7 linked regions of the Homo sapiens genome follow. The protein of the gene in region 2 purifies or fractionates together with the protein of the main gene of each other region. This does not show direct contact. Each region holds a gene or a part of one and is shown on either strand. Other genes may lie near its edges.

Region 1 (4,123 bases), on a different chromosome or scaffold from region 2:
TCAGTCATAGAAAGTAAACCTTTGGATTAGGTGCAAATTAATATCAGTCACAGAAACTAAATTTTTAGGTGCAGTGGCTCACACCTGTGATCTCAGCACTTTTGGAGGCCAAGGTGGGCGGATCACTTGAGACCAAGAGTTCGACACCACCCTGGCCATCATGGCAAAACCCCTGTCTCTACTAAAAATACAAAAATTAGCCAGGTATGGTGGCACACACCTGTAATCCCAGCTACTTGGGAGGCTGAGGCATGAGAATTGCTTGAACCCGGGAGGCAGAGGTTGCAGTGAGCCGAGAATATACCACTGCACTCCAGCCTGGGTGATGGAGCGAGCGCGACTGTATCAAAAAAAAAAAAAAGAAGTAAATCTTTGTTAATTATGAATAGGAATGATTTTAATGTTGCATTTTTGTAGGGATATATCATTCAGAAAAGAGAAATAAAACCAAGCTTGGAAGCAGATAAACCAGTTGAAGACATACTGACGTAAGCATATAGGCATGGGTCAATTTGCTTTGGATGTTTGTTAATGTTCTCGAATGTGATATAATAAATATGTTTTACAGGTATGAGGAATTTCATCCTTTCTTGTTTTCTCAACATTCACAATGTCCATATATAGAATTTGAATCATTTGACAAGGTGGGTTTTCCGTTCTGTTCCTTTACCAGTTAGTTAGCATGATATGAGCTGTTGATATCAACTTGCTTCTATTGAGAAACTGAAACTATACTTGCTTTACATTCACTGTGAATCTGGGCATTAAAGATCAGTGTCGTCACAGATACAGCTGTTGGAAATAATTGTTGCCACTTTATTTCAGGATGAAGGACCAGAGGTTTGAACTTCATTTGATTCTTGATACTGTTTAGCCATATAATACATTTACCGGAAATCTGTTCAAGTTCTTTGAGTGGTGTTATGAAACACAATGGAATCTAAAATTCTGTGTATGCAGCTGGGCTTGCTGGCTCATGCCTATAATCTCAGCATTTTGGGAGGCCAAGGCAGGCAGATCAGTTGAGGTCAGGAGTTCAAGACCAGTCTGGCCAACACAGTGAAACCCTGTCTCTGAAAAACTACAAAAATTAGCGGTGTGTGGTGGGGTGCACCTGTAGTCCCAGCTGTTTGAGAGGCTGAGGCAGGAGAATCACTTGAACCTCGGAGGTGGAAGTTGCAGTGAGCCTAGATCGCGCCACTGCAGTCCCGCCTGGGCAACAGAGTGAGACTCTGTCTCAAAAAAAAAGAAAAAAAAAATAAAATTCTGTGTATGCAAGTTGAAGTAGAGACTGTGCTTTTTTTTCCAACTAGTTGTTTGTTTTTTTAATAAGGCGGTGGATGAATTTTATTCCAAGATAGAAGGCCAGAAAATTGACTTAAAAGCTTTACAACAGGTATGTATTATTAAAAACACATATTAAACCAGCTAGTCTTTAGCGGCTTGATGGGTAGATGATATAGGAAAGGGTAGCCTTTCAGAAAGAGTGTAAGAAGTAGTATGGGAACTCTCTGACCTGCCTCTTTATTTATGATAAAGGTTTATGAAGAAGGTCCATGGGGGATTTTATTGTTGAAAAGTATGTCCTCATTTGTTTCATGAGTATTTCAGATATTCTGTAAAAAAAGGAAAATACGGTGGGAACGTGAGGCCTGTTATTTACACCTTAATGTGGTTTGCTCAGAACAACCCAAAGCTTCTCAAACATTGCTGTTAAGGAGATACTGTTTTAGGGAGATTTTAAATAGGCCAGAGGAGGGGATATTGTTTATCATTAAACTGTTTCTTTTTTAAATGGACTTTAAAGCCAAGTCTTAATATGTTTTCTGTGTATCATGACTCCAAAAGAAGTGATATACAGTATTTTCCCAGCACATTTGACCATGTTTTTAGAGCATTTGCTGCAGAACAGTTTCATAAATTGTTAATAGTCACTCTTGATTTGAAGGGGATTTGATTTTTTCAAAAACAGTCTTAAAATATGTGTGCAAAAATTTCAAATTATTTGAGGCTGGGCGCGGTGGCGCACGCCTGTAAATCCCAGCACTTTGGGAGGCCGAGGCGGGCAGATCACTTGAGGTCAGGAGTTCAAGAACAGCCTGGCCAGCATGGTGAAAACCTGTCTCTGCTGGAAATACAAAAATTAATGGGGTGTGGTATGGGTGTCCAGCTACTCAGGAGCCTGAGGCACAAAAATTGTTTGACCCTGGGAGGCGGAGGTTGCAATGAGCTGAGACTGTGCCACTGCACTCCAGCCTGGGTGACAGAGTGAGACTCTGCCTTAAAGAAAAAAAAATCAAATTGTTTGAATCCCTGTACCACTTCCTCTTCAGTTTTTAAAAATTAGTTAATCATAGCACAATTTCAAAGCAGGTAGGCCAGTCAGATGAATTATATACATCATGTAATTACCACATGGTGGCAGCACTTTGGCTAGTAAACTGAACCCCATGGTTTCATGGGTGTCAAAATACTAGTGATTTATTTTGGTAATTATTTTGTGGGTTTTAATAGTCATCATTCTTATCTAAATTTTAAAAAATATTTCATCTAGCATTTAAATACTCATTAATTGATGATATTACTAGTGTTAGAAATTTTGTCCCCCAATTGATAACCTTGAAATGTAAAGTATATATGATAAAATGCCAAATAACTACCATGAGCCTTTGTCTTATTAATTTAGGGGAAAAAGTTTCTGTAAAATACTGGAAATAGTTGTGAGAAAATCAAAAGTAGCAAAAAATACAAAGTCATTTGGTAATTTATGCTCTTTGGGAATTCATTCCCTGCCAGGTGCAGTGGCTCAGGCCTGTAATCCCAGCACTCTGGGAGGCCAAGGTGGGAGGATTGAGCTCAGACATTGGAGAGCAGCCTGGGCAACATAGCGGGACCCGGTCTCTATTATTTAAAAAAAAATAAAGAATTCGTTCTCCCAAACTTTACTTTTGTGCCATAGGAAAAAATGTCTTGATTTCTGCCTGTTTGAATAATGCCAAGGGTATTAGGGGTATATCTTATATACACAGTAACCTGTAATCAAAATACCTTTCTATATAAGGAGTGGGAGTTAGGAAGACAGGAGAAGTAATTTTGGGGCATGGAACGCATTGTAGTGGGATAGGCCTAGGGTGGTAGACTATGGGAACTTCAGCTAGCTAGATAACAGCATAGATGGGGTCAGGATAGTGAGTGTTGGGAAGTAAGAGAGGGATGTCATGAGGTAGGAGAAATCTAATTTTTAAAAAATCTGTTTTGCCAATAAAAGGAAAAGCAAGCATTGAAGAAATTAGATAATGTTCGAAAGGATCACGAAAACAGATTGGAAGCTCTTCAGCAGGCTCAGGTATTATGTTTGGCTTTCTCAGTGCTTTTTCAAAAATGTTAACTTTAACTGGCAATGTAGTAAATGTGTGTGGTTTGTTTTTTAAGGAAATAGACAAACTGAAAGGAGAGCTCATAGAAATGAACCTACAAATAGTTGACAGAGCCATTCAGGTAGTTCGAAGTGCTTTAGCTAACCAGATAGATTGGACAGAAATTGGGTTAATTGTGAAAGAAGCCCAGGCTCAAGGAGACCCTGTTGCAAGTGCAATCAAAGAATTAAAACTACAAACAAACCATGTTACAATGCTGCTAAGGTAAGTTTGACTCTTAGTCAAGCAGTTAATGCTTGTCTTTATTTTGTTATTTTAATTGTTCACTGTATTAAACATTTTTTCTTCATATTTTGAAATTCTCAAAGAAAGGGAAAAAACTAATTTAGATTAAAATAAATAATGAAACTTCCAGTACTGTAAACCATTTATAATTTTATTGAAGAAGAAAATTGAAAATAAAAGTGATGTCATTGACGTTAGTGAAATGCTATTGAATATTTTTAATAGAAATCCATACTTGTTATCAGAGGAGGAAGATGATGATGTTGATGGTGACGTCAATGTTGAGAAAAATGAAACTGAACCACCAAAAGGAAAAAAGAAAAAACAAAAGAATAAACAGCTGCAGAAGCCTCAGAAAAATAAGCCCTTACTTGTAGATGTTGATCTCAGCTTGTCAGCATATGCCAATGCCAAAAAGTAAGTCATTTAACTTTACATTTTAGGCCAAGTGTTATCTGCAA
Region 2 (4,123 bases):
CCGGCTGGCTGCAGTGGCTTACCTGTAATACTAGTTTTTTGGGAGGCTGAGGCAGGAAGATCGCTTGAGCACAGGAGTTTGAGACCAGCCTGGGCAACATAGTGAGACCTTGTCTCTACAAAAAATAAAAAATTGGCTGGGCATAGAGTCCCAGCTACTCAGAAGGCTGAGGTGGGAGGATCACTGGAGCCCAGGAATTTGAGGCTGCAGTAAGCTGTGATTATTAGGAATATATTTCTATGTCAGTACATAATCAACAATAATATAATATTTATTGTCAGAGTAGTATTTTGTTTGTTATGGCCAGTCTCATTGTTGGACATTTATACTGTGTATAGTTTTTCCTTATGGTGAACAACACAAGGATGAAGCATCAATGTGACCGCATCTTTTTCATCCTTAATTATTCCCCAAAGATAAGTTCTTACGGAGCAAAGCATGATATCAAAAGGTATGCATGCTTTTTGATAGGCAGCTGCCACATTGCTCTTGAGAAAGGGTTTAATTTCATTTCCCTTGGGCAGTGCTAGAAAGCTCTCATTCTCGTCCATCTCATGTCTCTTAAATGAAGTGGAGGTTTTGCTGTCTTAGTGAAGAGGCATTGTCCTTTGACTGCATCAGTGTTATTACCTCATTGCTATTGTCAGCCCATCTTCAAGCATTGGGCCACCTAGAGATAAAATGTCAAGCCATTTGAGGCCAAGCAAAAAGAGGCAGTGAGTTCATTTATTTGTTCTTAGAATTATTTGAACTTTCGTTGGCTTTGTATTCTGCCGATTTGAATTTTTCCTTCCGCAACAGGTATAGTAGGTAATGCAGTAAAGACAAAACTATTTTTGTTTACCTTGGGTAAATGTCCTAGAGACTAGTAAATAAACAGATTCTAAACCTTATCAGAAAAATACTGCTGTATATGGGAGCTATGGAGTATAGGTTGTGATTCAGGTCCTGCCAATTCCATTTTGTAATTCTCTGTGACATACTGCCTAATTCAGTCATGCTTTTTTTTAGTTTAATGTTTTATTGTGGTAAAATATATGTAACAAAAAATGTGGCCAGACGCAGTGGCTCACACCTGTAATGCTAGCACTTTGGGAGGCTGAGGCGGGCGGATCACCTGAGGTCAGTAGTTTGAGACCAGCCTGACCAACATGGTGAAACCCAGTCCCTACTAAAAATACACAAATTAGCTGGACGCAGGGGCGCACACCTGTAGTACCAGCTACTTGGGAGGCTGAGGCTGGGGAATCGCTTAAACCCGGGAGGCGGAGGTTGCAGTGAGCCAAGATCGCACCACTCATTCCAGCCTGGGCGACAGAGCGAGACTCCGTCTCAAAAAAAAAAAAAAAAAAGTACTCTTCTAACCATTTGATGTGATCTCGGCTCACTGCAATCTCTGCCTCCCGGGTTCAAGCGATTCTCCAGCCTCAGCCTCCCGAGTGGCTGGGATTACAGGTGCCCGCCACCACGTCTGGCTAATTTTTTTGTATTTTTAGTAGAGACAGGGTTTCACCATGTTGGTCAGGCTGGTCTCGAACTCCTGGCCTTATGATCCACTGCCTCAGCCTCCCAAAGTGCTGGGATTACAAGTGTGAGCCACTGTGCCCAGCTCTTCTAACCATTTTCAAGTGTACAGTTTAGTGATACTAAGTTCATTTACATTGTTGTGCAATCATTGCAGCTATCCATCTCCAGAACTTTTTCATCATCCCAAACTGAAACCCTGTACCCATTTAACACTAACGGTCCGTTTCCCCTCTCCCCCAGCCCCTGGTAACAACATTCTACTTTCTCTCTCATGAATTTGACTGGTTTAGGTGCCTAATATAAGTGGAATCATACAGTATTTGTCCTTTTGTGTCTGGCTTATTTCACTTAGCATAATGTCTTCAAGGTTCATTCGTGTTGTAGCAGGTGTCAGAATTTTCTTCTTCTTTTTTTTTTTTTTTTAATTAATTATTTTTTGAGACAGGGTCTTGCTCTGTCACCCAGGCTGGAGCAGTAGCCTGCTCATGGCTCACTGCAGCCTCAACCTCCTGGGCTCAAGGAGTTCTCCCACCCCAGTCTCCCCAGTAGCTGGGATTACAGGCATGCACCACTATGCCCAGCTAATTTTTGTATTTTTTGTGGAGATGGGGTTTTGCCATGTTGCCCAGGCTGGTCTCGAACTCCTGGGCTCAAGCAGTCTGCCCTCCTTGGCCTCCCAAAGTGCTGGAATTACAGGTGTGAGCCACTGAGCCAGCTGGAATTTCCTTCTTTTTTAAAGTTGAATGCTATCTTGTGTATATATGTGCCACATTGTGTTTATCCATTTATTTGTTGACAGACATTTGGGCACACTTTTTAAATTCAGTTTGTTTCTGGTCCATCTCCAACTGGGTTTGATACTGTTTTTTTTGGTACATTGACTTTACCCTAAAGCATCCTTTTAGTCTTGATGGTGCTTCAGTTGCTCATTTGGGGTGCTTTCTTATTTAGAAATGAAGCTCAAGAAGAGATCTATAAAAAGGGACAGTCCAAAAGAATATGGGGTGAGCTCTACAAGGTAAGACTCCTAAATTCTCTCCCATTGAGTGGTTCCTTGGGCTTTCATGATTTTGTAGAAGAAAACTAATTTTGATATATTGAAGCTCTGTTGCGCAGAGTACAGGCACCACTGCCTGTTCCATCCTCTTCCTCCTACAAAGAAACTCGGAAGGCGTACTACCATTGATCTAGGTAACTGCATTTTTTAAAGTACTTGTATAAGAGTAACAGCTATCTTTTATTATACAATCACATATTTATTACCTGTCAGTATTTTTTAAGATTTCCTGCCAAATTTATCATGCCTAGTTAAAGTCACATGCAACATTTTAAGTTATTTAGTCCACCCCTCTCCTTTTATCGATGAGGACTCCTGTCTAGAAAGGTTTAATGCTGTACCTAGCTCGACTAGCTTGTTAGTGAAGGAGGCTTTGTATATCTTGATTTCTGATCCAGTGATCTTTAACCGGCAGAGGTTTATGTCCATGCACTAATAATAACCTTCAGAAGAAAAATTTTCAAGTATAATCACGTAATTAAATAGTAACATGATAGGAAACTAGTACCGTGAAGGCAAGCTAAACTTTGTAGTTTTTTGTGAAATACACAAAACCTATAATATTACAAACTTAAAGATAATATTACAAACTTAAAGAAGTCTAAGAAGTAAATGATTTAGTTCAATAATCCATAGTAGTTAGGAAATAAGTTGAGTTTCATCTAAGCTAGTTTTTCTGTTTTAAATTCAGCAGGTTTCAAAAGCCACAGGATGAAAAACCTTTTGAATTCTGATCACTGGGCCTTGAGATTAGCCACAACGAACTCTGCCCAGAGACTGTTTTGAAGTTGTCTCTAAATATTATTATTTTATTTTTCCCAGACTCCCTTAAATGTCATCCCTCTTTTATTTGTACTGTAGCAAACCATTTTTGCCTTTCTGAATTTTCAGGTGATAGATTCATCAGATGTTGTAGTTCAAGTTCTTGATGCTAGAGATCCAATGGGTACTCGTTCCCCTCACATTGAAACTTACCTGAAGAAGGAAAAACCTTGGAAACACCTCATTTTTGTACTTAACAAATGTGACCTTGTTCCAACCTGGGCAACAGTAAGTACAACTACTAAACCAGAATAGACTATTAAGACATCTGTTAGTAAGTCAGTTGTAGGGCTTTTAGGCTAAAGTGTTGTCCGGCTGAGATTGTAGTAATGGGAGTGCTCTCATTGGAAACACGAAAGTGTGCTCATTGATAGTGGGCAGAGGCACCAGGAGACGGCTTCTGAGGCCACTGCCTGCTTCACATTATGCTCCATTAATTGCATTTAGTAACAATGAAGACATTTTTTGGAATATTGTTTTGTATTTATAAGACAGAAGAACAAAGCATTAACTGTTATACTTGGAAAAAACATTTCAAAGAATTATAGCTAACATTTTCCTTAGACAACAGTATATTTGAAACAGTTCTGTAATTCAAGCTCTGATTCTTCCACATAATGTAAATAAATGTACTGCAGTTTACCAAAATGTTTTCATCTCTCCTTCTAGAAACGGTGGGTTGCTGTCCTCTCCCAGGATTATCCAACACTTGCTTTC
Region 3 (4,123 bases), on a different chromosome or scaffold from region 2:
ACCCAGACTGGAGTGCAGTGGCGCAATCTCGGCTCACTGCAACCTCCTCCTCCCAGATTCAAGCGATTGTCCTGCTTCAGCCTCCCGAGTACCTGGGACTACAGGCGCCTACCACCACGCCCGGCTAATTTTTAGTAGAGACATGGTTTCACCATGTTGGCCAGGCTGGTCTCGAACTCCTGACCTCAAATGATCTGTCCACCTCGGCCTCCCAAAGTACTAGGATTATAGGTGTGAGCCACCATGCCTGGCGGTTTTATTTTTTATTTGTTGAGACAGACTATCCCCCTGTCACCCATGCTAGAGTGCAGTGGTGCAATTATGGTTCACTGCAGCCTCAACCTCCCAGGATCGATTCATCCACCTGCCTCAGCCTCCCAAGTAGTAGCTGGGACTGCAGGCACATGCCACCACGCCTTGGCTAATTTTTGTATTTTTTGTAGAGATGGGGGCCTCCCTTTGCTGCCCAAGCTGGTCTTGCACTCCTGGACTCAAGCAGTCCCACCTCAGCCTCCCAAAGTGCTGGGACTACAGGCATGAGCCACTGTGCCTAACCAAGAATCCTTTAAAAGAAATCTTACACAAAAGTCCAGTCCCATGACAGGTGAAAGCTGAGTTGCTGCGGCTGAAGTAGGGGTAGGGCACCCAGAGCCCCACCTGCCCACTTCCTGAGTGCCCCAATCGAGCCTCTCTCTTCCCTTAAGTTAGCAGCTGCAGCCAAATGAAGGGCAAAGCTTGCTGTATGCCAAAACCTTACCTATAATAATAACAACAGGAATACCTACAATAACCATGGCACATGTCCATATTACTCAGTACTTGTGATATGTGTGTGCCATGTATTTACTATGTTTATTTATTTATTTATATATATATTTTTTGAGATGGAGTCTCGCTCTGTCACCCAGGCTGGAATACAGTAGTCCGATCTCGCCTCACTGCATCCTCTGCCTCCTGGGTTCAATCAATTCTCTTGCCTCAGCCTCCCGAATTGCTGGGATTACAGGTGCCCACCACCATGCCTGACTAATTTTTGTATTTTTAGAAGAGACAGGGTTTCACCATGTTGGCCAGGCTGGTTTCGAACTCCTGACCTCAAGTGATCCACCTGCCTCAGCCTCCCAAAGTGCTGGGATTACAGGCATGAGCCACTGCGCCCGGCCAGGAATGTATTTGCTATGTAAAGATTCATACTTTGCAGATATTATCTTATTTCATCCATACAACCATGACCTTCAAAGGTAGGTCAATGCTATATCATCATTTCCTTCTCTTTTTTTGTGTGTTTGTTTTGAGACAGGGTCTCACTCTGTCTCCCAGGCTGGTGTACAGTGGTGCAATCACAGCTCACTGAAACCTCCATCTCCCTGGGCTCAGGTGATCCTCCCATCTCAGTCCCCTGAGTAGCTGGGACTACAGGCATGCACTACCATGCCCAGCTAATTTTGTACCATGCCCAGATGAAGTCTCACTGTGTTGCTCAGGCTGGTTTTAAACTCCCGAGCTCAAGAAATCCACCTGCTTCAGCCTCCCAAAGTGCTGGGTTTACAATGAGCTACCATGCCAAGCCCCATTTCCATTTTATACTTGAAAAATTAAGTAATTTTCCTTGGGTTACAAGCTAGTCCGTGGCAGAGCTGGCTGGAACTTTATCTTAATTCTCTCTGATTCTAAAACTTCCAAAATGGTGATGTGGCTCCTTTATGGATCTGGAAGCCTGCAGTCTTGCTGATGTCAAACTTGTTATATTTAAATAAACTAAGATTTTATTCATCAACATATAGACCTGTCTCCCATGCTATTATATTCTAGTAATTGTGTTAATAATACTAAGTAAAATTAAGATATGTTCTGCCAATTTCTGTCAGAGAACAGCCAGAATTCACTGGTTACTAATAAAAAAGGGATCCAGGTCTATAAGTGCCTCTGTCATCTTTTAGATCTTTACCTCCCTCTCATTCCCTTTTTTCTAGTTAGCTGCTATCACCAAATTAAGGGCAAAAGGCCAGGTTCTTACAAAAACAAACCCAAACAGCATTAAGAAGAAACAAAAGGACCCTCAGGACATCCTGGAGGTGAAGGAACGTGTAGAAAAAAACACCATGTTTTCTTCTCAAGGTACTGCAGTTTCACAGTTAACAGTGGGAAAGAGAAACTGTTTCTAAGGGAAATATGTTCTAAACCCAAACCAGCACCCAGATATCAAGCAATTACTTCCATTTCCTCCTATATAGAATACCTAAATAGAATTTCTATGGGTGGAACTGATTTTTTTTTTTTTTTTCATGGAGTCTTGCTCTGTTGCCAGGCTAGAGTGCAGTGGCGCAGTCTTGGCTCGCTACAGCCTCTGCCTCCTGGGTTCAAGCGATCCTCCTGCCTCAGCCTCACGAGTAAGTGGGACTACAAGCGCGCGCCACCACGCCCAGCTAATTTTTTGTATTTTTAGTATAGATGGGGTTTCACCATGTTGGCCAGGATGGCCTCGATCTCTTGACCTCATGATCCGCCCGCCTTGACCTCCCAAAGTGCTGGGATTACAGACGTGAGCTGGAACTGATTTTTTTATAATTACATTAAATTGGAATGAAATTGGGCACAATTTGAATACTTGGGAATAGGATTGCTCATTGGATCTTTGTACATATATATATTAGCATAAAGATTTACTTTGACAGAACTAGAATTCCTTTGTTTTAAATTGCCATATCTTTATTTTTAAAACTCTGAAGTTGGCAATATCATTTTAACATAATTGTCAACATTATTTACACTGTTGTTATCTGTTACTATCGTCAGCTGCCTATTTGAAGGTGAAAAAGAGATTCTATTTAGTGGTAAAATCTGCCACCACCCCACATTCTAGGCTCAGCTTCTTGGCTCACCTCTGAGAGCTTTTCCCTGCTGGGACCAGCGGGGGTAGGTCAAGTTTGAAGGGCTGGTAGGCAGAGGAGGAGGGAGTGGGAGGGAGTAGAGTTGATGAGGCGCACTGGCTTTCTGAAATTTCTTGGTCGCTGCTAATGTTTGTTCCTTGTGCCCTAGCTGAGGATGAATTGGAGCCTGCCAGGAAAAAAAGGAGAGAACAACTTGCCTATCTGGAATCTGAGGAATTTCAGAAAATCCTAAAAGCAAAATCAAAACACACAGGCATCCTGAAAGAGGTAAGAGCCCAAAAGCTCAAGGATGGTGTTGATGTCCGATGTCCTTCAAAGCCAAGGTGCTAGCTGTAGGACCAAGAATGTGTTGTTTGTTTTATTTTGTTTTTCTGAGACAGAGTCTCAGTCTGTGGCCCAGGCTGAAGTGCAGTGGCGCCATCTCGGCTCAATGCAAGCTCCGCCTCCCAGGTTCAAGCGATTCTCCTGCCTCAGCCTCCCAAGTAGCTGGGATTACAGGTGCCTGCCACCACACGAAGCAAATTTTTGTGTTTTTAGTAGGGACAGAGTTTCACCGTGTTGGCCAGGCTGATCTCTAACTCCTGACCTCAAGTGATCCTCCAGCCTTGGCCTCCCAAAGTGCTGGGATTACAGGCGTGAGCCACCATGCCCGTACCCAGCCAAGAATCTGTTTTTTACATAAATCTAAAAGTAGGTATATGTCAGTTTGTTTGAGTTTGCTTTGAAGAACAGGAGAATTTCTAATAAATTTTAGCTTTGTCCTTGTCTCTTTACTGAAGAATATCATTTGATTTAACATGACTTAAATAGATATCAATATTATAAAAATGTTTGCATTTGGTTATGGCTGTGAAATTATGTTTAAATGGCTCTACACTGCTGCTATTTTCTGCCTTGCAATATGCAAAAAGAGTTTTCCCATTCCAGTATTTTTATATTGGCATTTCAAATGCTCTAAATCAGTAGTTAACCCCATCACACCCAAGGACCCTTTTTAATAACAAGTATTTTGTATTGCTTCCTTATCTTGAAATAAAATTCATAGATAATATGAATTACCTATACTAGTCATTTCGAAAAAAATCAATAAATATCCTAATGCAAATAAGAAAAAATGAAAAGATTTGTGATAAAGATACAGATTTCATTATGGATTCATAAATGCAGAGGCAGAACTAGCTTAGGGGAAATAATCAAGTCATCAGAGGCTTGGACTTATCAGTGTAAATGAG
Region 4 (4,725 bases), on a different chromosome or scaffold from region 2:
GAAATAATCAGTTACACACATGAGAAGCCAGGTATATCTGAAAGAGTGACTTTTAGTTCCCAGTTTTAATATGGTGACCCTACAATGGGAAACTGAAAGCAGCAATTTTTAGAATAGTATACACAAATTTTCTTCACTGCCATTATAAAGTGACTTTGTGTAAGTTACTTTTAGCCCTTCTGAGCCTCATCTGAAAAATAAGGATAATACTTACAACTAACAGATAAGGTAATAATGTACACTGAGTTCAGCGCCTGGAATACATAAATGCTCAACAAACGAAAATTCCCTCCTGTCTTAGCCTGATCGGCCTCCAGGGGCTATGCTCATGTTTTGGCCATAACCTGTGGCTCCTCCCTCAGGCCCCAGCTGTTTCCCTCAGTTCTAGTTGTTTCACTCCTGGTTTCTAAAAGGATCCTATCTATATTTAGAGGTAATGCTAGTACCAATTGTGGGCTCAAGGGCACCTGAGTACTGAGCAGTTTTCAATTGTTTTCCAGAGTTAATTGGTTTGGCTCCACAACTGGCTGTCTTGACTTCTACAAGTAAGAGTGCCACGTATGCACAGTACCTCAGCAGTATAAGACTAAACAGAAAACTAAGTGTGGTCGCAGGACAAATCCTAAGCAAAAAGATGTTTTTAGCCCTATTTATCAGGATCCCAGACCTTTGTTAAATCACAGGAGCAGTAAACCTTCAATGAACTCCACAGAGTAGGCTACAGCCTACTAACTTAATCTTCATCTAAATCACAGTTATCAGACCCAAGTTTCAACCAGTTCATGCTGCTTTACTATAACCAAGATGAGGGTGAAGCAGAAAGAGCAAACAGGTAGTGAAGATTTTAAAAAAGGCATCCGATACAGCTAGGTCTGAATAAAGCTTTGTTATTTACTAGCTCTGTGACCTTAGTAAATTATTTAACCTCTTAATTTACAAAATATGAAATAATTGTGAGGATTGAATGAGATAATACATACAAAAAAATCTTAGCACCTTGGCTAGCCCACTGAAAGAGGTCAATTAAAAAAGAGGCACATTAGGCTGCGGTGGCTCACGCCTGTAATCCCAACACTTTGGGAGGCCAAGTCAGATGGATCAAGAGGTCAAGAGTTCGAGACCAGCCTGGCCAAGATGGTGAAACCCCCGTCTCTACTAAAAATACAAAAATTAGCCAGGCGTGCTGGCGGGCACCTGTAATTCCAGCTACTTGGGAGGCTGGGGTCGCTTGAACCCGGGAGATGGAGGTTGCAGTGAGCCGAGATCACGCCACTGCACTCTAGCCTGGGCAACAGAGCAAGACTCCATCTCAAAAAAAAAAAAAAAAAAAAAAAGAGGCACATTGTCACTAATGAGAACACTGCACTCATTTCTTGCTTTGTTCAATTTTCATAACATCTAAGAAAAGTAACAATTTAAATCATTATTTTTGGACCTTTGTAAAGTAACCTAAATGCTACCATCCAAGACCTAGCTGAGAAATACAAACTGATTAATGTCCATAAATCTTAGATGAGTCAGCAAAACTTAATGCCCAACAAATAAAAGGCTTAACATGGACTACTTAGGAGCACACAATGGTCATTACAATTTCAAAATCGGCAATTTTCTATCTAGTACAATCACAAATTTGGTCTGGAAATCCAAATATTAAGGAAATGCAAACATCATAATCAATATTCCCAAATCACCTTAATTGAAACTGGAAGGTATGAGGCAGCCTATTTGAAGTTAACATCAAGAAATAATTTAAGGCAGAACCCCAACTCTCTCCCACAAACACAAAACCAGTAGCAGATGGCACAAGAACATTTCTCAGTGAGAAATTGCAATTCTAACAAAGTACAGGTAACTTAATTTTATCCATCACCTTTTGGTCAAACTGAAAACAAACAACCAAGCTTTTGGTTCTCTCCAAAACACTGAAATCTGCATTATCACTGACCTAACTTAAAGCAAGATATTTTTGGTGATCTGTCCTCTCCTGCTTCATTAACCGTAGGTAAATTAGGAACAGTAGCCTGCTAAACAGAGGGGAAGTAAATATCACAGGCATGTTTTATCAATAAAATGGACAAGCGATAATCAAATTATTTAAAGAACGGCTTGTACTCCTTAACAGAGGGACAAGCTTGAGAAAGATCCACTTTCTAAAAGAACCTAATCATTCTGGATGAATTATGAGAAAAATATCACTGTAGTCCAAAACTGACTGAATCTACCTTTCTGCTTTAATCCAAGTCCTAACCACATCTATTTTATGTCTCTGCGTCTGTTCGCCTGATTTTCCATTTCGTCTCCCCCTTCAATTCCAAGAACGCCCTTCTCTCCCTTATTTTCAAATCTCATTATTGCCCCCGAATGCTAAGGACCTCGCACAGCCACGGAGGTGACCTTACGCATCCCTACTGCATTCCTAATTCATTGTACTTCTCATCCCAAATGATCCTATTCTTTCGTTCTATCTCGCTCGTTGTTTCTTAAAATCCAATACCCCACACACGCTCACGCCAGAGTCCCCCCCACACTCCATTGTTTCCCCGGCCTATCCGTCTGGAAACTCCCCAACTCCGACGCGGGTGTTTCACCCGCCCCACAGACCCCAGGAACCTTCCACCCTCTGGGCACTTCGGGCCTCTAAGGGCTCACATCCCCCTCCTTCCCGTCCCCCCGCCCCCAACTACCCCCTCCCTCTTTTTCCTCCCTCAACCCGCTCCCCGCACCTCGGCGCCCTCTGAGCCCCCGCCAACCCCGCCACCCAGCACCCTTAGCCTCACCTAGCCCAGGCCCCCGCAATCGCCTCGTCGCCCCAGCTCCGGGCTCCGCGTCCCGGACGCTCCCGGGTCTGAGAAGAGGAAAGGAGATCCTCCACCTCCCCTTCTAGAGCCACCGCCGCCGTCGCCGCCGCGCTCCTCCCCCAGCTCTCTCAGAGCCGGACGCCGCCCCGCCCCCACCGCCGCCTCCCCACTTCTCTCCTGGGCCGGACTGCAGGATGCTGCCGGAGATCCAGCAGATCACCCCGACCCTCGCCCAGGCAGCGGCTCGCCCCGCCCCGGAGCCCTCTCGGGCGCGTGCGCGCCAGCCAGCCAGCCAGAGCTCAGGGCGCGTACTCGCGCCGGCGCGAATCCGGCGCGCCAAGCTCGAGGCTGTGGCAGCCAACGGGTGCGCGAGCGCGGCTCGAGCGGCGAGACGGCCCGCGCACCGGAGACCGAGAAGATCGGGGAGAGGCGCGGGGCGGCGAGAGGCGGGCTCCGACCAGTCGGGTTACCGCTCTTCTCGGGGCCCGGTCCCTCGCGTCTCGCACCGTCCGCAGGCTCGCGCGCCACCGGAGACTGGGAATTACCGGGGAAAGGAAGAGACTCGGGGAGAGGGTTGGGGACAAAGTAGATGGAAGGGGAAAACGGGTGGGACGCGAGCTCGCGTCCGCGTGCAGCACAGCTCGTACCCGGCGGCATCGGTTAGGGACCCGGCGCGCGCCGGGAACGGAGGGCCCGAGCTGAACTGACGGAAAGAGCCGAAACTCCCCCGGAGGTGGCCGAACGCGGGCGCCGCTAGGGGAGTCGAGCGCGGGGCTTTTGCTCAATGTCCGGGTTGGGAAGCTTTTTCTCTGGCCGCCGGGTACAGCGCCGCTCACTCTTCCGTACCGAGGACTTCACACCGCTTTCCCCTTCGCCTCCTTCCCGACCCAAGTTTTGTTCCAAAAGGCAATTTCAGAGTCGCCAACGACGGGAAACGCTGGGGCCTCCGGACCGCGCGGTCGCTCTGCCTCCTGAGAGAGCGCAGAGGCCGGTGGGGGCGCGGGAAGAATGACCTCGGGATCGTCAGTCGGGTTTCTGATCTACCCAGCTGTCAGCATAGCCCCTCTACGCGGCGGTGGTCGGTCCCGCCGCCCTTCGAATCTTTTCTGTTAAATACTCTCTTCGACGCCAGACTCCCAACCTCCCTGGTGCTGGAACTAACTAGTATTTGTGCACCCTTTCTGCATGCATAAAGCACTTACCTCAGTGTCGACTGGTCAGGGGTCTATTAAGAGGGGCCAGAGGGATTTAGACAGTCAGCATTGAAAATATTTATTAGAATCTGGGGCCGGGCGCGGTGGCTCACGTCTGTAATCCCAGCACTTCTGAGAGGCCGAGGCGGGCGGATGACTTGAGGTCAGGAGTTCGAGACCAGCCTGGCTAACATAGTGAAACCCCGTCTCTACAAAAAATACAAAAATTAGCCGGATGTGGTGGCACACGCCTGTAATCTCAGCTACTCGGGAGGCTGAGGCAGGAGAATAACCTGAACCCAGGAGTCGGAGGTTGCAGTGAGCCGGGATTGCACCACTGCACTCCACCCTCCATCTCAAAAAATATATATATATATTAGAATTTGTCCTCATCTTACCTTTTGAGGCCAAGCAAAGGGGCTCTGAAAAGGCACCAACAAGCTGGAGAGTGTGTGTCAGTGTATAGCTAGACACCACAGGCACATGTCATTTTGGTTTCCACGTATGTTATTGCAATCACAGTACATGTAACTGAGTAGTATAGTAGAGCTTTGCCAAGCCATCTGATCCTTGTGGTTTTTAACGTTGCTTGAGGTAAGGGCTCAAAAATCGCCTGGAGTCCAATGACCTGTGGTTAGTAATGTCTCATCTACTCCAACCATATGATTTACTGATCTAGATAAGCAGAAGACGAAGTCATCCAGCTAGGTACGGCACTGGACTATATGTTCCTT
Region 5 (4,123 bases), on a different chromosome or scaffold from region 2:
TACAGGTGTGTGCCACCACACCCGGCTAATTTTTGTATTTGTAGTACAGATGGAATTTCACCATGTTGGCCAGGCTGGTCTTGAACTCCTGACCTTGTGATCCACCCGCCTGTCCTCCCAAAGTGCTGGGATTATAGGCGTGAGCCACCGTGTCTGGCCTTTGTAATTGTATCTTTGTGAATGAGTGATTTGGTTCTGCCCTTTTTACTCCATATTTATACCAGCCTGGCTCTAGGAGAGTCAGAAGGCCTGCCCAAGGGTTTCTGCCCTCTCTGGGCCACTGGGCCAAAGCTGTAGCTTGCCCTCCGTGGGCTACCTGGGTCAGCCACTCCTGTGCTTAGGGCTTAATCACTAGTTCGCTGAGGCCTGAAGTTTAATCAACACCTTGAGGCTAAACAGCTCTGGTCCTTGTGATCTTCAGCCCATCCCTGCTTTTCTCTGGTCCTCCTCAGGAGCTTGTCAGGCCACGGGGGCTCCAGTGATGAGGCTGACCATCTTTCTTAAGAGGTGTTCTGGTAGCTTGTATTATGATTGGATTGCGTTGACTTCTCAAAGCCGAACTGCTGCTTACTAGTAGTACAGTAGACTCCCATTTGGCACTGGGCTGGTCTTTACCCAGGGGTCCCATAGATGGGTGTGTGGAGGGGAGAAGAGCCAGCATGCATCCTTGAGTTGTTAGTTCACCAAAGGATGTGACCCTGTGTTCCACGAGCGCTCGGTAATTCCTGGTTTGCACTGATGGCCTTTCTCTTTGGTAAAGTCAGGGCGCTGATTATCTTGTCGGAAGTATCCAGCTGGTCCTCTCTTGGGCTCCATCACTGTGCAAGTCTCTGCTCATAAGAACTCTTCAGTTCCCTTCTCCTGGGTTCACAGCCAAGGCAAAAAAGAGACTCCTTGGCCTCTTGGCAAACATACATCCCCTACCTGGCTGGTCCCCCTTCAGCTTCCCTCTCTAAGGAACAACTTGAACATAGAAACTCCAACCTCACCTGTAATCCCAGCACTCTGGGAGGCCAAGGTGGGCAGGTCATTTGAGGCCAGGAGTTCAAGACCAGCGTGGTCAACATGGCGAAACCCTGGCTCTACTAAAAATTAGCGGTGGTGGCGCATGCCTGTAATCCCAGCTACTTGGGAGGCTGAGGCACGAGAATCACTTGAACCAGGGAGGCAGAGGCTGCAGTGAGCCAGGGTCATGCCACTGCACTCCAGCTTGGGCAACAGAGAGACCCTGTCTCAAAAAAAGAAAAGGAACTCCAACTTCTGAAAGTAAACAACTTATGCAGTACATGATTCCTGGAGAGGATTTGGTCACCAACCTTCCCTCCTTCCTTCCAGGGAAAGCACACAGAGGGGCAGGGCAAGGGCCTCCAGTGCATTACTTCACCACTTCCCTGAGTAGGTCTTCTCAAGTCCTTGGAGCCTTCACTTTGTGATTTGTCACTGCCAGAGAGCAATGTTGGGATCATGAGCTGTGGGTCCTCAGTCTGACTTTAAAGAAACCTCACAAATTGTCTGCTCCTGATTTTCCTGACCATGTTTCCCACCAATCCTAACAAACCTCTGCTTCCCTCTCAGTCTCAACACTCTGGTGTTAATGCATTTGAACCTGCTGTGTATCTACTTCCTGTAATTTTTTGAGAATTATCTAGAATGGCTCAAATCCCACCTTTCCCATGAAGCCTTTCTGACCACTGCACATGCTCCTTCCCCTTGCTGGGCTGTGTGCTGCATGTGTGTACAGGGGGACATCACATTTGGGTGCAGCCTGTCGTGTGGGCGTTCCTTTTGACGCCCGTGTCTTGAGAGGGCTGTGTGGTGTTAGCAGGTTAGAGGCAGATGCTAAAGAGACAGGCCTGACCATTCACTGACCTAGCTTTCCTTTCCCTGAGCTTCAGTTTCCTCACCTCTTAAAGGGAAATAAAAATAGTATGAGTTGTGTGCAGCTTAACTGAGAGGATGCCTGTGGAGTGTTCAGGGTGATGGCAGTGGTTATTACTATTAATCTTTTTCTCCCCAGCCAGACTTGATGCCTGGACTTGGCCACAGCTTGCTTGGTAAACCCATTTACTGACATATTAATTGATCCCTCTTCTCTCACCAGGTACATGGCCACCTCTGGCCTAGACCACCAGCTGAAGATCTTTGACTTGCGAGGGACGTACCAGCCTCTGAGCACTCGGACCCTGCCCCATGGAGCAGGGCACCTGGCCTTCTCCCAGAGGGGACTGCTGGTGGCGGGAATGGGTGACGTTGTCAACATCTGGGCAGGGCAGGGCAAGGCCAGCCCACCCTCCCTTGAACAGCCCTACCTCACCCACCGGCTCTCAGGCCCTGTGCATGGCCTTCAGTTCTGCCCCTTTGAAGATGTGCTGGGGGTGGGGCACACTGGGGGCATCACCAGCATGCTGGTCCCTGGTGAGTGGGCCAGGGGATGGGGCTTGAAGTGAATGAACTCTGGGTGGAAGTTTGGGCCAGAGACATCCAGGAACTGGGGGCTTAGTTGGGCTGGAGCTGTTGGACTGAGGTTCTTCCTTATGGCTCCATGCTTCTCCCTCCCTCCCTTCAGGGGCCGGTGAGCCCAACTTCGATGGCCTGGAGAGTAATCCATACAGAAGCCGGAAGCAGCGCCAGGAGTGGGAGGTGAAGGCCCTGCTAGAGAAGGTGAGGCTCCCCTGCTGGAGAGGGTGAGATCCCCCCCATTGCTGGAGAGGGTCAGGTTCCCCCGTCCTGGAGAGGGTGAGGTTCCTCCTTCCTGGAGAAGGTCAGGTTCCCCCCTGCTGGAGAAGGTCAGGTTCCCCACTGCTGGAGAAGGTCAGGTTCCCCCCTGCTGGAGAAGGTAAGGTTTCCTCTTCCTGGAGAGGGTGAGATTCCCCTCTCCTGGACGGGGTCAGGTTTCCCTCTGCTGGAGAGGGTGAGATTCCCCCTGCTGGAGAGGGTCAGGTTTCCCTCTGCTGGAGAGGGTGAAATTCCCTCTCCTGGAGAGGGTCAGGTTCCCCCCTGCTGGAGAGGGTGAGATTGCCCCTGTTGGAGGTGAGGTTCCCCTGCTGCAGAGAGTGAGGCCCCTGCTGCTGGGGAAGGTGTGGTTTGGGGTTGGAGGTAGAGAAAGCTCTCCTGATGTCTCATGCTGGGGGTCTTGGGTAGAGGGGTTCAGCAGCCTCCCTGGCTTCTCTTTTTGGTGCTACCCTCCTGTGGCTCCTTGCTGAGTCCTGTCCCTCTGTGACACCCCCAGGTACCTGCAGAGCTTATTTGTCTGGACCCACGAGCCCTGGCCGAGGTGGATGTCATCTCCCTGGAGCAGGGAAAGAAGGAGCAGATAGAGAGGCTGGTATGGAGCAGGCCCCTGAATGCCCAGGCCCGTCTTCTCCCCCACATCCTCTCCCCACCATGGCTTGTCCCCAGAAGTGCGGCCAGCAGGTGGGTGCTGCCAGTTCCCTGACTCCGAGGCTGTAACAGATATCACTCCTGTCCCCTCCCTCAGGGCTATGACCCGCAGGCTAAGGCTCCCTTCCAGCCAAAGCCAAAGCAGAAGGGCCGCAGCTCCACGGCAAGCCTGGTGAAGAGGAAGAGGAAGGTCATGGATGAGGAACACAGGGTAAATGAGCATTGGCATGGGCCGGGCCTTCCACAGGCTGCACCCTCCTGCTTGTGCCTCTGCCCTTGTCAGCCTGCCACTTCTCACTCTGTGCCTGTGTCCTCCCCGTCTCCGGTCCCCAGGACAAGGTCCGGCAGAGCCTTCAGCAGCAGCATCATAAGGAGGCGAAGGCCAAGCCCACGGGGGCCCGGCCATCTGCCCTGGACAGATTTGTGCGCTGAGCCAGACTCCAGGGTTGCCTGGGAACAGTCTCTCCCCAAGATCACCTGTAGGGAAATGAGTGTTCCCTGGAACAAGGAGGTGGGGGCAGTGTGGCCCCTTCCCCAACTGGGGGTGGACAGCTGTCTCCTGGGGTGGGTTGGTATTAAAGAGGAAAGCGATTTTTTGGATAATGTGTCTGGATCATCTTGTGGACCTGTTCCCCTCCCCCTTGCCAAGCATGAGGCCATTCTAGGATCGGAGGGGTCAGTGTCCTGCCTCTACCCCCACCCCATACCTTGTGGCTGCTGTGGCCTTAGCTTTGCCTTTTAG
Region 6 (3,177 bases), on a different chromosome or scaffold from region 2:
AATTAGCTCTTTTACAAAAAAAAGGAATTCTTATTAAAGTGATCTTTGTTTGTAACTTGGAACAGTGATTTTTTTTCTGAAACAGACATTGTTATCTATTCAACCGCACTTTTTAAAATTTACTGTGTAAAAAAGTCATGTTTCATGACTGAAATCAGGGATTTAATTTCCCGGTCTTTAAAGAGTACATGTCTTTAAACTGTAAGATTAAAGTGTCCGTATATTTTTTCTTTAGATGACAGTTATTCCCTGTATTTTTCTTTGTTTTTGAGGTGGCAGTGTTATAGCTCTGTGATTGCTCCTGCAGAGCAGGGCTACCCCAAAGACAGTGTGCTGAGAGTAGCCATTTCCTGTATTTTTCTAATTGGAAAATCCATTTTTTAGCCTTAATGAGTTTTCAGTGATGTGACCTAGAACATGTTGAACATGCAGCTACATCAAACAGTAAAAAAAAAAATAAACTGGTTTTCATAACATAGGCATTTCATTGTATTTAACTTGTGATCCATGAAGCCTAACCAAACCTTAACCTTCTCTGACCCTTAAGGCACATGAAGATCCCATGTATGACATCATACGAGACAATAAACGACATGAAAAGGACGTAAGGTGAGGTCGTCCTGATGATAACAATATCCCCTTAAAGTTTTAAAATTATATAAAGTTGGAGAAAACCACTCTAGTGTTAGAGGAATGGTGCAGTAAACATGGTACTTCAATTGTGAAAATATGTGGAGTGCAGGAGTCATGGCTGAAAAGGCCAGTGTTGGGGAATGAGCAGGCCAGCCTCCTCCTCCTTGGGTTAACTTAAAGCCATGGGCTTGGTCCAGCTCTCTGGCCACTGCAGTTGATGTTGGCAACCCATGTTGTGCTGTCTACTTGTACAGTATAATTGATATTTTCATGTGATTCAGTTTATCTTCTCCAGAGTCTTTAGGGATGTGAGCTTTTGTTAAAAATTATACTTAGGCCAGGCTCAGTGGCTCACACCTGTAATCCTAACACTTTGGGAGGCCGAGGCCAGCGGATCGCTGAAGTCCAGGCGTTTGAGACCAGCCTGGGCCATACAGCAAAACCCCATCTTTACAAAAAAATATAAAAAGTAGCCAAGTATGGCAGCACGCACCTGTAGTTCCAGCCACTCGGGAGGATGAGGTGGGAGGATCTACTTGACCCCAGTAGGTTGAGGCTGCAGTAAGCCATGATTGCACCACTGCACTCCAGCCTAGGTGACAGAGGAAGACCCTGTCTCTAAAAAAAAAAGAAAAAAATTAGACATGATTAGAGAGAGGTGGAAAAAATTGGAGGGTTTGTTTTTTCAAATTGGTGGCATTATAACTGTTAAAGATGTAGATTAAGAAATTGAGCAGTAGGGGAATGGTTTAGTAAAGTATGCGTCTGTTAGAAATTACAATTGTAAGGACTGTGGAAACATGCAGAAATGTCTAGGACAATAAAAAGAATACAAAGTGGCTTGTACACTGGTTTCAGTCACGTAAAGTAGGCATTCAGGTGGAGAAGAATGAGAAAACAGGTAAAAATAAAAATACTGTCTTTGTGACATGGTTATTCATCATCCTATACTGCTTTTGAATGACATATTTATCTAAGCAACTGTTGTAAGTTAAAGCTAAAACTCACTGTTCTTTGATCAATTTTGAATGTTTAGGATACAGCAGTTAAAACAGTTACTGGAGGATTCTACCTCAGATGAAGATAGGAGCAGCTCCAGTTCCTCTGAAGGTAAAGAGAAACACAAGAAAAAGAAGAAGAAAGAAAAGCATAAGAAAAGGAAGAAAGAAAAGAAAAAGAAGAAAAAACGGAAGCACAAATCTTCCAAGTCAAATGAGGGTTCTGACTCAGAGTGACAAGGATGTGACTTGTTCAACATTCTCTTCTCAAACACTGACCAAGGAACAGAGGAAGATGCAGTCAGAGAAAGCAGCAGGATAGAGACGCCGAGAGAGGAGTATATGTGGGTCACAGCAGTGAGCTCCCACCCGCCTTGCAGTGAAGATGTGACCCCAGGAGAGGGAGTGTCTCCTTCCAGGTGCTAGCTCTGGACAGCAGCTGATTTTAGGCAGGAAAGTTTCTTCATCGTTGTCCTCCCTGCTGGTCACATGAGTTTACGATTCCTTTGAAGTGTCTCCCACAGGGTGGCAGGACTGGGAGAATCTCTGAGGCGTGTCTTCCAGGCCCTCCCACAGCTTGTGCCCTCCACAGTGTGGACTCAGGTCCCATAGACATCAGGCTGGAGTCTTCTCTGTTGTTGAGAATAATAAAAGCTCATTATTTATTTTTTAAATGGAATGTATTTATTTATGAATAATACATAAGTACAAATAATACCTAATACAAATTTAAAAGGTACATAATATTTAATCATGAAAACTCTACTTTCTTCCTTTCCACTCCAGTTACCTTCCCCAATGTCTACCAGTGGTACTAGTTTCTTGTGAATATTTTATATATCACAAGTAAGTACAGGGCTTTTCTTAGCAAATGCTATCCACATTCACTCACACATAGTTACATTTTAAACTTAGAAGTATGAACCTTACAGTGGTCAGTATCTGAGGGGGTTGGATCCAGGACCAACTCCCTCAATCCCTCACAGATACCAAAATCCGTGGATGCCCAAGTCCCTTATATTAAATGGCGTGCTATTTGCCTGTTCCCTACACACATCTTCCCATATACTTTAATTCATCTGTAGATCACTTCTAACACCTAATACAATGTAAATAGTTGTTATAATGTATTGTTTAGGGAATAAGGGCAAGAAAGAGAGTCTGCACATGTTCCATAGAGACAGAACCATCCATTTATTTTTTTGAATATTTTCTATCTGTAGTTTGATGAATTCACGAATGTAGAACCTGCTGATAGGGTGGGCCCACTGTTTTTATATATCAAGTACATTTGGCTTTACTGCCATATCAGCAGTGTGCATTTATATTTACCCGACATGGTTTGTTGATTTGGGGGCTAGGGAGTTCTTAAAACAATGAAAAACCTTGTATGGCTGCATTCTAATTCTCTTGCTTTCTACTGCCAAAGTCCCACAATTTTCACAGAGTGACTCAGAAAAAGTTTAAGAATATACAGGGATTTCCATACTGGGTCAGGTACCCACATCCCAAAATCTCTCTCCCTTTCTTCCTCTTCCTGTTGCCT
Region 7 (4,123 bases), on a different chromosome or scaffold from region 2:
TGAGTTACTGCGCCCCGCCTGAAATTCTTTTTTTAATTTAAAATTTTATTTATTTGTATTTTTTCCAAGAAATAAGCTTAAATTTGAAAAATTTTAAATATTATTTTGCTTTTCAAACTTTTTGTTAAAAACGAAGAAATATACACATTAGCCTAGGCCTACATAGGGTCAGGATCATCAACATCACTGGCTTTCACCTCCACATCTTGTCTCACTGGAAGATCTTCAGGGGCAGTAACACACATGGAGATGTGACTTCCTGTGATAACAATGCTTTCTTCTGGATTGCCTTTTTTTTTTTTTTTGAGACGGAGTCTCGCACTGTCGCCCAGGCTAGAGTGCAGTGGCATGATCTCGGCTCACTGCAAGCTCCGTCTCCTGGGTTCACACCATTCTCCTGCCTCAGCCTCCGGAGTAGCTGGGACTACAGGTGCCCGCCACCACGCCTGGTTAATTTTGTTTTTGTATTTTTAGGAGAGACGGGGTTTCACCGTGTTAGCCAGGATGGTCTCAATCTCCTGACCCCTTGATCTGCCCACCTCGGCCTCCCAAAGTGCTGGGATTACAGGCGTGAGCCACAGTGCCTGGCCTGGAATGCCTTTTGAATGACATGCCTGAGGCTGTTTTATAGTTAACTGTTTTTGCAAATAGAAGGAGTATACCCTAAAATAACAATAAAAAGTACAGTACGGTAAATATATAAACTAGTAACATAGTCATTATCATTATTAGGTATTATGTACTATATGTAATTATATGTGTTATACTTTTATACAACTGGCAGTGCATTAGGTTCGTTTATATCAGAATCACCACAAACAGGTGAGGAATGCTATGACATTACCATGGCTATAATGTCACTAGGCAATAGGAATTTTTAGCTCCATTATAATGTTACGGGGCTACTGTTGTATATGCAGTCTGTCATTGACCGAAATGTCATTATGGGCACATGACTGTATTAACATAGCATTTACATTGTGTTAGATATTATAAGTAATCTAAAGATGATTTAAAGTATATGCGGCTGGATGTGGTGGCTCACGCCTGTAATCCCAGCACTTTGGGAGGCTGAGGCAGGCAGATCACCTGAGGTCAGGAGTTTGAGACCAGCCTGGCCAACATGCTGAAAACCTGTCTCTACTAAAAATACAAAAAAAAAAAAATTAGCCAGGCGTGGTGGCGCTTGCCTGTAATCCCAGCTACTCAGGAGGCTGAGGCAGAAGAATTGCTTGAACCCTGGAGGTGGAGGTTGTAGTGAGCTGAGATCGCGCCATTGCATTCCAGCCTGGGTGAGAAGAGTGCAACTCCATCTCAAAAAAAAAACAAAATGGAGGCCAAGGCAGGCAGATCACCAGAGGTCAGGAGTTTGAGGCCAGCCTAATCAACATGGTGAAACCCCGTCTTTACTAAAAATACAAAATTAGTTGGGCGTGGTGGCGCATACCTATAATCCCAGCTACTCGGGAGGCTGAGGCGGGAGAATCGCTTGAACCCTGGAGGTAGAGTTTGCTGTGAGCTGAGATCATGCCATTGCACTTCAGCCTGGACAACAAGTGAAACTCTGTCTCAGTCAATCAATAAATAAAGTATATGGGAGCGTGTGCATAGACTATATTTAATACTATATACCTATTTATGTAAGGGACTTGGGCATCCTTGGATTTTGGTATTCTTGGGGGGTGCTGGAATCAACCCCTTTTGGATACTGAGGGATGACTGTAATTTCTGGTTCTAGGGGAGGTATCATTAGGAGCTGGCCAGACTTAGGGATAAGGGAAGGAAGTTATCCTATTTCTAATTCTGAGAAAAGCACTTCTTCTGCCCCTGTCCTAGCAAGTGTACATGCCATCTTAAGAATGATCATTCTACCTTTGCTCTCTCCCATCTCCTGGGCAGCTCAAAAAGTTTCCAAGAAGACAGGACCCCGGTGTTCCACAGCTATTGCCACAGGTAACTGTGCTCAAGAGCTGGGTCTGAGAAGGGATTTGGGGTATGTGTAAAGGGAGAATGATGGAGGTGGAGGGACACTGGTCCTGTAATTCCTAAGTCACCTCCTCAATTCTGTAGGGTTGAAGAACCAGAAGCCAGTTCCTGCTGTTCCTGTCCAGAAGTCTGGCAGTAAGTGACAAACATAACCACTGGGTGAGAGGCTGGGATAGGGAAGAGAAGATGGTGAGTGACCAGAAAAATCCATTTGGTCTCTAAGGGGAAGGAGATGTAGCATCAGGTGTGGATCCCATAAAGGCTAGAAGGGAGGAGGGATAGAGAGCCTAGACTTCACTGACCTTTGTCCTTTCTGTGTTCATCTTAGCATCAGGTGTTCCTCCCATGGCAGGAGGGAAGAAACCCAGCAAACGTCCAGCCTGGGACTTAAAGGGTCAGTTATGTGACCTAAATGCAGAACTAAAACGGTGCCGTGAGAGGACTCAAACGTTGGACCAAGAGAACCAGCAGCTTCAGGACCAGCTCAGAGATGCCCAGCAGCAGGTCAAGGCCCTGGGGACAGAGCGCACAACACTGGAGGGGCATTTAGCCAAGGTACAGGCCCAGGCTGAGCAGGGCCAACAGGAGCTGAAGAACTTGCGTGCTTGTGTCCTGGAGCTGGAAGAGCGGCTGAGCACGCAGGAGGGCTTGGTGCAAGAGCTTCAGAAAAAACAGGTGGAATTGCAGGAAGAACGGAGGGGACTGATGTCCCAACTAGAGGAGAAGGAGGTAAGGGCCAGATTTTCACCAGATGTCAGCCCCGCTTTCCTGGCAGAGGTCATGCCTCCCCTCCCTTCCAGGTACCCCTCAAGTCTGGGCTGAGAACTCCTGAGCACCTATCTTTAGCAGTATAGGTGCTGCTGAAGATACCTCTCTCTTGACCTGTCTGCACCCCAGCCCACTCCTGACTGTCTTGCTTTCTGCCACGCTTCTTCCTACCCTTGACTGTTTGCAAAGCTCTCATTTAGATCTGTGTCTTTCTTAGTCCTCCATCCCTCTTTCTTTGGGTTCCCATCCTGATCACAAATTCCTGTGGTACTCTCTTTCCCTCCTCCCATGTCCACTTGACTCCTTCCTGGTGAGCACCAACTAGATTAAGTTATTTGCAGTCTCTTAAATGACTCAACTTTCACTTCTGGGCATTCTGCATATGTGCTTCCCTCTTTCTGGAATGTTCTTTGTATACTACATCCTTCCTTGGTTCACTCCTGTACTTCTGGGTGTCACCCTAGATATCATCTTCCTTGTGCTCCTCTTTGTGCTTGGACATACCCATAGCACTCCCTGTCTTAGTACCATGATTCCTTATTTTCTCATCTTTCTTTGTTTACCAGACTTTGAGGTCCTTTTGAGCAGGGACCTCACTTCCACCCACTCCATACGCCCCACAGTTTGTTCTTCTTCTTGGTTGCATCTTACCCTCTGTGTATGTTGTGTTCTCTTCTGGGCAGAGGAGGCTGCAGACATCAGAAGCAGCCCTGTCAAGCAGCCAAGCAGAGGTGGCATCTCTGCGGCAGGAGACTGTGGCCCAGGCAGCCTTACTGACTGAGCGGGAAGAACGTCTTCATGGGCTAGAAATGGAGCGCCGGCGACTGCACAACCAGCTGCAGGAACTCAAGGGCAACATCCGTGTATTCTGCCGGGTCCGCCCTGTCCTGCCGGGGGAGCCCACTCCACCCCCTGGCCTCCTCCTGTTTCCCTCTGGCCCTGGTGGGCCCTCTGATCCTCCAACCCGCCTTAGCCTCTCCCGGTCTGACGAGCGGCGTGGGACCCTGAGTGGGGCACCAGCTCCCCCAACTCGCCATGATTTTTCCTTTGACCGGGTATTCCCACCAGGAAGTGGACAGGATGAAGTGTTTGAAGAGATTGCCATGCTTGTCCAGTCAGCCCTGGATGGCTATCCAGTATGCATCTTTGCCTATGGCCAGACAGGCAGTGGCAAGACCTTCACAATGGAGGGTGGGCCTGGGGGAGACCCCCAGTTGGAGGGGCTGATCCCTCGGGCCCTGCGGCACCTCTTCTCTGTGGCTCAGGAGCTGAGTGGTCAGGGCTGGACCTACAGCTTTGTAGCAAGCTACGTAGAGATCTACAATGAGACTGTCCGGGACCTGCTGGCCACTGGAACCCGGAAGGGTCA

Evidence for each region.
Region 1: the proteins of GNL2 (region 2) and NEMF purify together in Homo sapiens (affinity purification with mass spectrometry; one large-scale study listed by BioGRID and IntAct). This does not show direct contact.
Region 3: the proteins of GNL2 (region 2) and MCM10 purify together in Homo sapiens (affinity purification with mass spectrometry; one large-scale study listed by BioGRID and IntAct). This does not show direct contact.
Region 4: the proteins of GNL2 (region 2) and SPATS2 purify together in Homo sapiens (affinity purification with mass spectrometry; one large-scale study listed by BioGRID and IntAct). This does not show direct contact.
Region 5: the proteins of GNL2 (region 2) and WDR46 purify together in Homo sapiens (affinity purification with mass spectrometry; 3 studies listed by BioGRID and IntAct, with this or other methods). This does not show direct contact.
Region 6: the proteins of GNL2 (region 2) and RP9 purify together in Homo sapiens (affinity purification with mass spectrometry; one large-scale study listed by BioGRID and IntAct). This does not show direct contact.
Region 7: the proteins of GNL2 (region 2) and KIFC1 purify together in Homo sapiens (affinity purification with mass spectrometry, with the first as the bait; one large-scale study listed by BioGRID). This does not show direct contact.

The regions. Positions count from the first base shown.
Region 1 is NC_000014.9:49,828,572-49,832,694, reverse strand, and holds part of NEMF (ribosome quality control complex subunit NEMF), read left to right. Parts: intron 1-417; coding exon 418-488; intron 489-568; coding exon 569-644; intron 645-1,333; coding exon 1,334-1,396; intron 1,397-3,268; coding exon 3,269-3,346; intron 3,347-3,432; coding exon 3,433-3,641; intron 3,642-3,887; coding exon 3,888-4,079; intron 4,080-4,123. UniProt on the Homo sapiens protein: Key component of the ribosome quality control complex (RQC), a ribosome-associated complex that mediates the extraction of incompletely synthesized nascent chains from stalled ribosomes as well as their ubiquitin-mediated proteasomal degradation.
Region 2 is NC_000001.11:37,582,289-37,586,411, reverse strand, and holds part of GNL2 (nucleolar GTP-binding protein 2), read left to right. Parts: intron 1-2,478; coding exon 2,479-2,545; intron 2,546-3,475; coding exon 3,476-3,634; intron 3,635-4,075; coding exon 4,076-4,123. UniProt on the Homo sapiens protein: GTPase that associates with pre-60S ribosomal subunits in the nucleolus and is required for their nuclear export and maturation.
Region 3 is NC_000010.11:13,195,650-13,199,772, forward strand, and holds part of MCM10 (protein MCM10 homolog), read left to right. Parts: intron 1-1,973; coding exon 1,974-2,118; intron 2,119-3,039; coding exon 3,040-3,158; intron 3,159-4,123. UniProt on the Homo sapiens protein: Acts as a replication initiation factor that brings together the MCM2-7 helicase and the DNA polymerase alpha/primase complex in order to initiate DNA replication. Additionally, plays a role in preventing DNA damage during replication.
Region 4 is NC_000012.12:49,365,640-49,370,364, reverse strand, and holds the start of SPATS2 (spermatogenesis-associated serine-rich protein 2), read right to left. Parts: upstream 2,904-4,725; 5' UTR 2,778-2,903; intron 1-2,777.
Region 5 is NC_000006.12:33,278,966-33,283,088, reverse strand, and holds the end of WDR46 (WD repeat-containing protein 46), read left to right. Parts: intron 1-2,101; coding exon 2,102-2,415; intron 2,416-2,566; coding exon 2,567-2,661; intron 2,662-3,229; coding exon 3,230-3,325; intron 3,326-3,478; coding exon 3,479-3,592; intron 3,593-3,714; coding exon 3,715-3,813; 3' UTR 3,814-3,981; downstream 3,982-4,123. UniProt on the Homo sapiens protein: Scaffold component of the nucleolar structure. Required for localization of DDX21 and NCL to the granular compartment of the nucleolus. Part of the small subunit (SSU) processome, first precursor of the small eukaryotic ribosomal subunit.
Region 6 is NC_000007.14:33,093,925-33,097,101, reverse strand, and holds the end of RP9 (retinitis pigmentosa 9 protein), read left to right. Parts: intron 1-547; coding exon 548-609; intron 610-1,669; coding exon 1,670-1,868; 3' UTR 1,869-2,305; downstream 2,306-3,177. UniProt on the Homo sapiens protein: Is thought to be a target protein for the PIM1 kinase. May play some roles in B-cell proliferation in association with PIM1.
Region 7 is NC_000006.12:33,401,415-33,405,537, forward strand, and holds part of KIFC1 (kinesin-like protein KIFC1), read left to right. Parts: intron 1-1,899; coding exon 1,900-1,953; intron 1,954-2,070; coding exon 2,071-2,121; intron 2,122-2,314; coding exon 2,315-2,715; intron 2,716-3,437; coding exon 3,438-4,123. UniProt on the Homo sapiens protein: Minus end-directed microtubule-dependent motor required for bipolar spindle formation. May contribute to movement of early endocytic vesicles. Regulates cilium formation and structure.